Linked DNA regions of Homo sapiens. The protein of the gene in region 1 interacts with the protein of each later gene in a pairwise test. Each region holds a gene or a part of one and is shown in the gene's direction. Other genes may lie near its edges.

What was found.
Region 2: the proteins of HCK (region 1) and SKAP2 interact in a protein complementation assay, tested with the Homo sapiens proteins (one study listed by BioGRID).

Annotation. Positions count from the first base shown.
Region 1 is NC_000020.11:32,055,177-32,059,003, forward strand, and holds part of HCK (tyrosine-protein kinase HCK), read left to right. Parts: intron 1-3,827. UniProt on the Homo sapiens protein: Non-receptor tyrosine-protein kinase found in hematopoietic cells that transmits signals from cell surface receptors and plays an important role in the regulation of innate immune responses, including neutrophil, monocyte, macrophage and mast cell functions, phagocytosis, cell survival and proliferation, cell adhesion and migration.
Region 2 is NC_000007.14:26,738,811-26,742,637, reverse strand, and holds part of SKAP2 (src kinase-associated phosphoprotein 2), read left to right. Parts: intron 1-266; exon of another isoform or gene 267-296; intron 297-2,673; coding exon 2,674-2,751; intron 2,752-3,759; coding exon 3,760-3,827. UniProt on the Homo sapiens protein: May be involved in B-cell and macrophage adhesion processes. In B-cells, may act by coupling the B-cell receptor (BCR) to integrin activation. May play a role in src signaling pathway.

The DNA of each region.
Region 1 (3,827 bases):
TTTGTGTGAGAGGAGTACTGTAGCCCAGAAGGGTCACCAGGGACTCTGGGGCAGAGAAGAGAGAAGAATGTTGCTCTGCTGATCTCCCAGCCGTCTCTGGATCAATGGCCTTTCTTTCAGGCCTCATGTTCTCTGCTGTAAGGCACTTCACTTGCCTTACTCACTATGCCTGGCACTTAATAAGTGTTCAAGAAAATGGAAGCATGAACCTTTTGAGGGAACAATAACCAATATTTTCATGTATCTTTATGTAGTCTTTTCTATGCACTTTTAAATTAACATAATTAGTATAATGCTACACATAGATTATTTTTATCCTATTTATTTGCTTAGTATTACATTGTAGCATTTTCCAGGTCATTAAAATGTTCTTAAATTTTTAGTGGCTGCATAATATTCCACTGTTTGCCTGTATTATAATTTGCTTAACCTTTCTAGCAGAGCAATCTTTTATATAGTTCAAAATTTTTAGAAATATTTTAATCGAGGTGAAATTCACATAACTTTATAAAATTAACTATATGATTTTTAAAGCGAACAATTCAGTGGTATTTGGTATATTCACAATGTTGTACAAACACTACCTGTCAGTAGCTCCTAAACATTTCCATCACCCCTGAAAAAGGAAACTTTGTACCCATTAAGCAATTACCCCCCATTCCCCCGGCCCCTGGCAACCACCAATCTGCTTTTTGCCTCTACGGACTAATTTATTCAGGATATTTAACATAAATAGAAGCATACTATGTGACTTTCTGTGTCTAGCTTCTTCCACTTAACATAATGTTTTCCAAGGTTCATCCACATGGTGGCAACTATTAGTACTTTATTCCCTTTGTGGCCAAATAATATTCCATTGTATGGATATTCCACAGTTTATTTACCCATTTATCCACAGATGGAAATTCAGGTTGTTTCCACATTTTGACCATTGAAAATAATACTGCTATGAGCATGCATGTGCATACATGTATTTGTTTGAGCACCTGTTTTCAATTCCTTTGGGTATATACCTGAAGTAGAGTTACTGGGTCATATAAAAGTTCTATCTCTGTGGCCGGGTGCGGTGGCTCACGCCTGTAATCCCAGCACTCTGGGAGGCTGAGGCGGGCGGATCACGAGGTCAGGAGATGGAGATCATCCCGGTTAACACGGTGAAACCTCGTCTCTACTAAAAAAATACAAAAAAATTAGCCGGGCATTGTGGTGGGCGCCTGTAGTCCCAGCTACTCGGGAGGCTGAGGCAGGAGAATGGCATGAACCCGGGAGGCGGAGCTTGCAGTGAGCCGAGATCGAGCCACTGCACTCTAGCCTGGGCGACAGAGCGAGACTCCTTCTCAGAAAAAAAAAAAACAGTAGTTCTATCTTTAACTTTTTGAGGAACTGCTATGCTGTTTTCCACCATTTTACATTCCCACCGTAATATACAAGGGTTTCAATTGGCTTCACATCCTTGCCAATGCCTACTATGTTTATATTTTATTAGTATTATTATTACCATTCTAATGGGTACAGAAAGCACGAATCTTAATCTCATTCAAACCAGGCTGCCCTCTGAGGGCTCTTACCTCAGAAAGTAAGGAGAAAGTTGTCTACATTCTAAGGACTAGCCAGGGCTTGGACTTTAAACTCTTCTAGAAAGTAAATTCTACAAGAGCACAAACATGTTTGTCCTATAAACCACTGTATCTTCTAACACCTGGCACCTGGCACATAGTAGGGCCTCAAAAAAACACTGATGGGACAAACGCAATGAATGTTGGACAACCTCCTCCCTCCCTTGCCTGAGATATTTCAGCTGCCCTCCCCGAACACCCCTCCACCCGCAGCGATTATTTTTAATTAGTTGCTAACATTTAAACTCAGGAGAGCTCACATAATCTGGATTTCTGTCTCCTAAAACATTAGAAGAGTTAGCAGCCCTGAGACTAGAACCCACGACTCCAGTGCTCTTCAGACAACCTCAGTGGAGCTGGGGGCTGCCCTGGGGGCTACACCTGGGCTGTCCAGCTTGCACAGCCCTTGCCAGGCCCACTTTCCTCATCCGCAGAACCCTCCACATCCCTATAGTCATTTGAGTTTTCAAACCCCACCCTTCGGGTCATGACAAGGCTTCCTTTTTTATAGAAAAGGAACATGAAGGGCTGGGTGCGGTGGCTCACCCTGTAATCCCAGCACTTTGGGAGGCCGAGACAGGCAGATCATCTGAGCTCAGGAGTTCGAGACCAGCCTGGGTAACATGGCAAAACCCTGTCTCTACAAAAAGTACAAAAATTAGCTGGGTGTGGTGGCACATGGCTGTAGTACCAGCTACTCAGGAGGCTGAGGTGGGAGGATCGTCTGAGCACAGAAGGTGAAGGTTGCAGTGATCTGAGACTGCACCACTGTACTCCAGCCTGGGTGACAGAGCAAGACCCTGTCTCATAAAAAGAAAAGAAAAGGAATGTGAAGCCTAGAGAGGGTAATTGACTTTCCCAAAGTCACACAGCAAGTTAGTAGCACAATCTCTCTCAGCCTCTTTCTTTCTTACATCTTTTTGTTGTTGTTTATTTTTCTTTTTTTATACCACAAGTCATCAAGCAATCACTTCTGCCTTTCTAAACAAACCCCACCACATGCACCAACCACATGTTGGTCCCCACCCCATTTCTCCAGTTTCCTCCCCCACAGGACTGGGAGTTTGAAGGTACTTTCAGAGGCGTGGGTAATGATGCAGAAGCAGCCTGTGCTTAAGTGTAAATGTGCCCTGGTCTTGGCCCCGGCTGTGGTCCCACATGCTGCATCCTCTGGATGGCACTGCGCTAGGACGTGCGCTCCTGACTCTCCCTTCGAGTCACCTCCCTGAGTTCCAGGCATCACCCTGAAATCCTTTGGCCCAGGAGATGTAAGTGCAGCCAAGAGAACAGGAATCCCAGCCTCATCTCTACCATAGAAATGAAGAACAGTGGGTACAGTACAGTAGACGACCCCGAGTCTGAGTGCCAGCTCTGCCAAAGACAGGTTGTGATGCACTAGGCAAATCTCTTCCCTTTCTGAGCCTCAGTTCCCAAATCCAAAAAAAAAATGGAACTGAGGCTGGGCACGGTGGCTCACACCTGTAATCCCAGCACTTTGGGAGGACAAAGCAGGTGGATCACCTGAGGTCAGGAGTTCAAGACCAGCCTGGCCAACATGGTGAAACCCCGTCTCTACTAAAAATGCAAAAATTAGCCGGGCGTGGTGGCGGGCGCCTGTAATTTCAGCTACTTGGGAAGCCGAGGCAGGAGAATTGCTGGAACCCGGGAGGCACGGTTGCAGTGAGCCAAGGTCTTGCCACTGCACTCCAGCCTGGGCTGACAACAGCAAGACTCTGTCAAAAAAAAAAAAAAGGGGGAGAACTGAGGAGGATACTACTCATGATTCCTGCAGCACAATTCCTTTTATGTCAAAACACACACACACACACACACACACACACACACACATACACACACTAGTCCATCATGGCGTATATGTCTTAGTTTGAGTTTCTCCAGAAGCAGACCCTAGGCAAGGTTTCAAATGCAAATAGTTTGAGAGCTGATTCCAGAGACCCTCCTAGGGGAGTAAGGAAGTGAGGCAGGGAACAGGAGGTAGTCATTAAAGGTGTCTTCTAAGCCCAGTTACCACTGCGGGCACCTGGAGCTCAATCCCACTGAGGAGCTCTGGGAGCCAGGGTAGAACAGGCTTGAGAGGTGAGGGAACCGGGGTATTTGTCCACCCTGTTCTCGCTCCTGTCTTTTGTTGAAAACTACTCCTGGGGATGTGATAATTCTCTAGCACTTTCGGCTTGCCAAGCCCATGGGCAG
Region 2 (3,827 bases), on another chromosome or scaffold:
TACTCCCCCACTCCCCAGGGAAGAAATCAAAGATTTTATATTAGAAACATGAATTTAGAATTCAGAACAAGTATTGCTTATGACATCAAATTTTATTGTGATGTATCAGGTGGAAATTTAGTCAACACTTTTCTTAAAGCAAAAGACTCAGGCTATGTGTATATTGAACGCTAGTAAATTCTAATTTCCCTTCTCCTTTTCCTTTTCCCCCACTTCCTCTCCCCTCTCCCTTCTTCCCATCTCTCTCTGTCTCCTTTTTGACCAGTAACATTTTAGAGTTGAAAGCTATGCTAAAGGTACCCATTTCTTTTCAGAATAATTTAACTTTTCTTAAGATTTTGTGAGCATCCATTCCTTATGTAAAGAGCATTTATTATGCCCAATGGAAGTGAGAGGGTTGTGGGACTACCCCTTAATGAGACCAGATCATTCCACAATTATCCACTTTAGATTAGTGGTTCACCAGGACTTGTTTACAGAGATAAGATTTCTGTTTGTAATTTTTGTTTTATGTACAAAATCCTATAATAAATAATTTATACCTTTATATGTACCAAGTTTATTTTGAAAAAAACTGGATACATTTATTGAACAGCTATTAAAATATGTACACTGACTTTCCCTAAAATTTCATATACATTTCAAAATCAGGGCTCTATTTTAAATATGTTTTAATGATACTGTGTGGTGTTTACTGGGTGAAGTTGATCCACCAAGGAGCTGAAATTAGTGCTCTAATTTTAAGCTTTATTTCTTAAGAAAAAATATCCATGACTTTATCACTACTGTGATCCCCATGGTATTAAAAAAAAAAACTGGTAAAATTAGGTGATGAGTTTGTAAATAATAAACTTCCTATCAAACCCATTCTTTTTTTTAATTTTTAATTTTTGTGGGTACACAATAGGCAAATTTATGGGCATATTGTATGTTTTGATACAGGCATACAATGCATGATAATCACATCAGGATAAATGAGGTATCCATCACCTCAACCATTTATTCTTTCTCTGTTACAAAGAATCCAATTATATTTGTTTAGTTATTTCATTTTATTAATTTATTTATTTATTTATTTATTTATTTATTTATTTATTTAGAGACAGGGTCTCACTCTATTACCCAGGCTGGAGCGCAGTGGCACAATCATGGCTCACTGCAGCCTTGACCTCTTGGGGGATCCTCCCACCTCAGACCCCCTTCCCCCCACCTCTACCCTCCTCCTCCACTGGCTGGGACTGCAGGCGCGTATACCACTACACCCAGTTATTTTTAAATTTTTCGTAGAGATGGGGGTCTCACTGTGTTACCCAAGCTGGTGTCAAACTCCTGGGCTCAAGCGACCCTCCTTCCTTAGCCTCCCAAAGTGCTGGGATTGTAGGCATGAGCCATTGCACCCGGCCACTTAGTTATTTTTAAATGTACAATAAATTATTGTTGACTATAGTCACTCTGTTGTGCTATCAAATACTAGATCTTATTCATTCTAATTACATGTTTGTACTCAAACACATTTTCTATCCTAAGTTGTACTGAAACTATTTCCACTGGATGTATTCCATACAAACTTTCTTTTGATTGGTTGTTTTCACTTGCTAGAGTTCTAGTAAAATGCTGAGGATAACTATTATATTTCTTTTCTTTTCTGTTTTCGTTTTTTTCTCTTTTTTTTCCCAGGCTGGATTGCAATGGCGTGATCTTGGCTCACTGCAACCTCTGCCTCCTGGGTTCGAGTGATTCTCCTGCGTCAGCTCCCAAGTAGCTGGGATTACAGGCACCCGCCACCATGCCTGGCTAATTTCTTTTGTAGTTTTAGTAGAGACCAGGTTTCACTGTGTTGGCCAGGCTGGTCTCGAACTCCTGTCCTCAAGTGATCCACCCGCCTCGGCCTCCAAAAGTGCTGGGATTACAAGCGTGAGCCACTGCGCCCGGCAGATAACTATTATATTTCTAATGAAGTTTATAAAAATATTGAACACTTGTAAAATTGAGTAACCTATAATCCATGACCGTGAATATACAATTTCTAATCAACTTAACTTTTGCTTGATTTAAAAACTTTTTTTAGGGATCCAGTATTTGTTTATAATAGTTTTATCAGATCTGTCTAGTTTTAGACTCTTAAATGCCCTATAAAAACCTAAAGCATACTCACTCAGTGGAATGTCCATAACATTTCTCTGAATACAAACACAGAGAATATTTGCTGTGGGCTCAGAGAAACAAGTTTCAGCATTTGATTCGGAAAAGCATTTTATGTTTTACTTGGTAGGAATAGGGATTATGCAGGAAAGAGTCAATATGTATTGAAATTTTTAAAGAGTTAATTCAATATAAATATAACGAAGCTATGATTTATTTGAAATTCTTAACCTCTCTTTCAGGGATTTATTGCATTTATTTATAATAGTTTCTCAGTCCTGTATTTTGGGAGGCTATAATAACATATAGGAGTACAGAACTTTTTTTTTTTTTTTTTTTTTTTTACTTTTGAGACTTTTAGGAGGAATAGAGGGGATTAATCTAGGGAATGGATCTGAAACAAAGCTAATAGACTTAGATTTAAACAATTTCAGTAATTAAAAGCACACTGAATCTAATGAGATCTGGCACTTGTTTATTCTGAAATGGATTACCCACTGCTTTTTTTTTTCTCTCCCCAACTTCTCATAGGAGCCCAGTTTCCTCCAATTGCAGCACAAGACCTTCCTTTTGTTCTAAAGGCTGGCTACCTTGAAAAACGCAGAAAAGGTAAACTGAAGGTTCTAATGAAAAATGTAAAAATAATTTCATCCTTAGATAGAACATGTTTGTAGTATACATGTGGAGGCAGTATTCGTTTTAGGTGATTAAAGAGTTTAAAGATTGTAAGAAAATCTGGATGACATTATCCAAACCACAAAATATAGCTCTTAGCTTTAAATAATTTTTAATAAGAAAACATTAGGTTAGGTTTTTAGTTGTCAACCTTGGTTATTTGTAAATGATTCAGGAGCTGTTTCCTGCCTCTCAAAGGAAAGCTGCAGGCCATGACTGTATTCTCAAAGGTGGGATTTCTCACCAGTATCTCAATGGGCTGAGCAGCAGGTTCTCCTATGCCCAAACTGGCATGCACCATGGTTCAGATCAAGCCTGGAGTTTTGTCTGCCATTGTCTATTATTCATTTCAGTGTTCCTCTCCATTGGCTATGATAATTGGGAGTTGACCATATGGTCTCACTCTTTCAACACCAATATTTAATGGAAATGAAATATGGAGGTGGTTTTATAATATGAGAAATGAAAAGCAGACAGTCTTTTCATTACCATTCTGCTTATCTCTCTTGTAGTCCCTTTAGGCCTTTCTATTTATATTTCATTTTGCTTTTCTTAGCTTTCTTAGCTGAATTTTAAAACTGAAAGAGATAACAGAAATAATCTAGGTTAGCTCCTCCCCTTCTTTTTATAACAGATGAGAAAATGAGACCCAGATGGATCAATTATCTCAAGACTGTATAGTCAGATACCTTTTTGACTGTCCCTGTCAGAAAACTTTGTTAGCCATGCTGTTGATCCCATAAGTATGGCAGCCCCATAGCTACTTTACTTTATTCCCTTTAGCTGTGTTGGTTTGTTGTTGTTTGGTTTTTTGTCTCTTGGAAAAGAAGATACAAATTAGTCACACAATGTTAGAGCTCAGAGGAATCTTAGAAATCATATTAATTAACTTTTTCTTTTACAGTAAGGAAATGGCCTTACATTTTCCCCTCTTTATTGCAGATCACAGCTTTCTGGGATTTGAATGGCAGAAACGGTGGTGTGCTCTCAGTAAAACGGTATTCTATTAT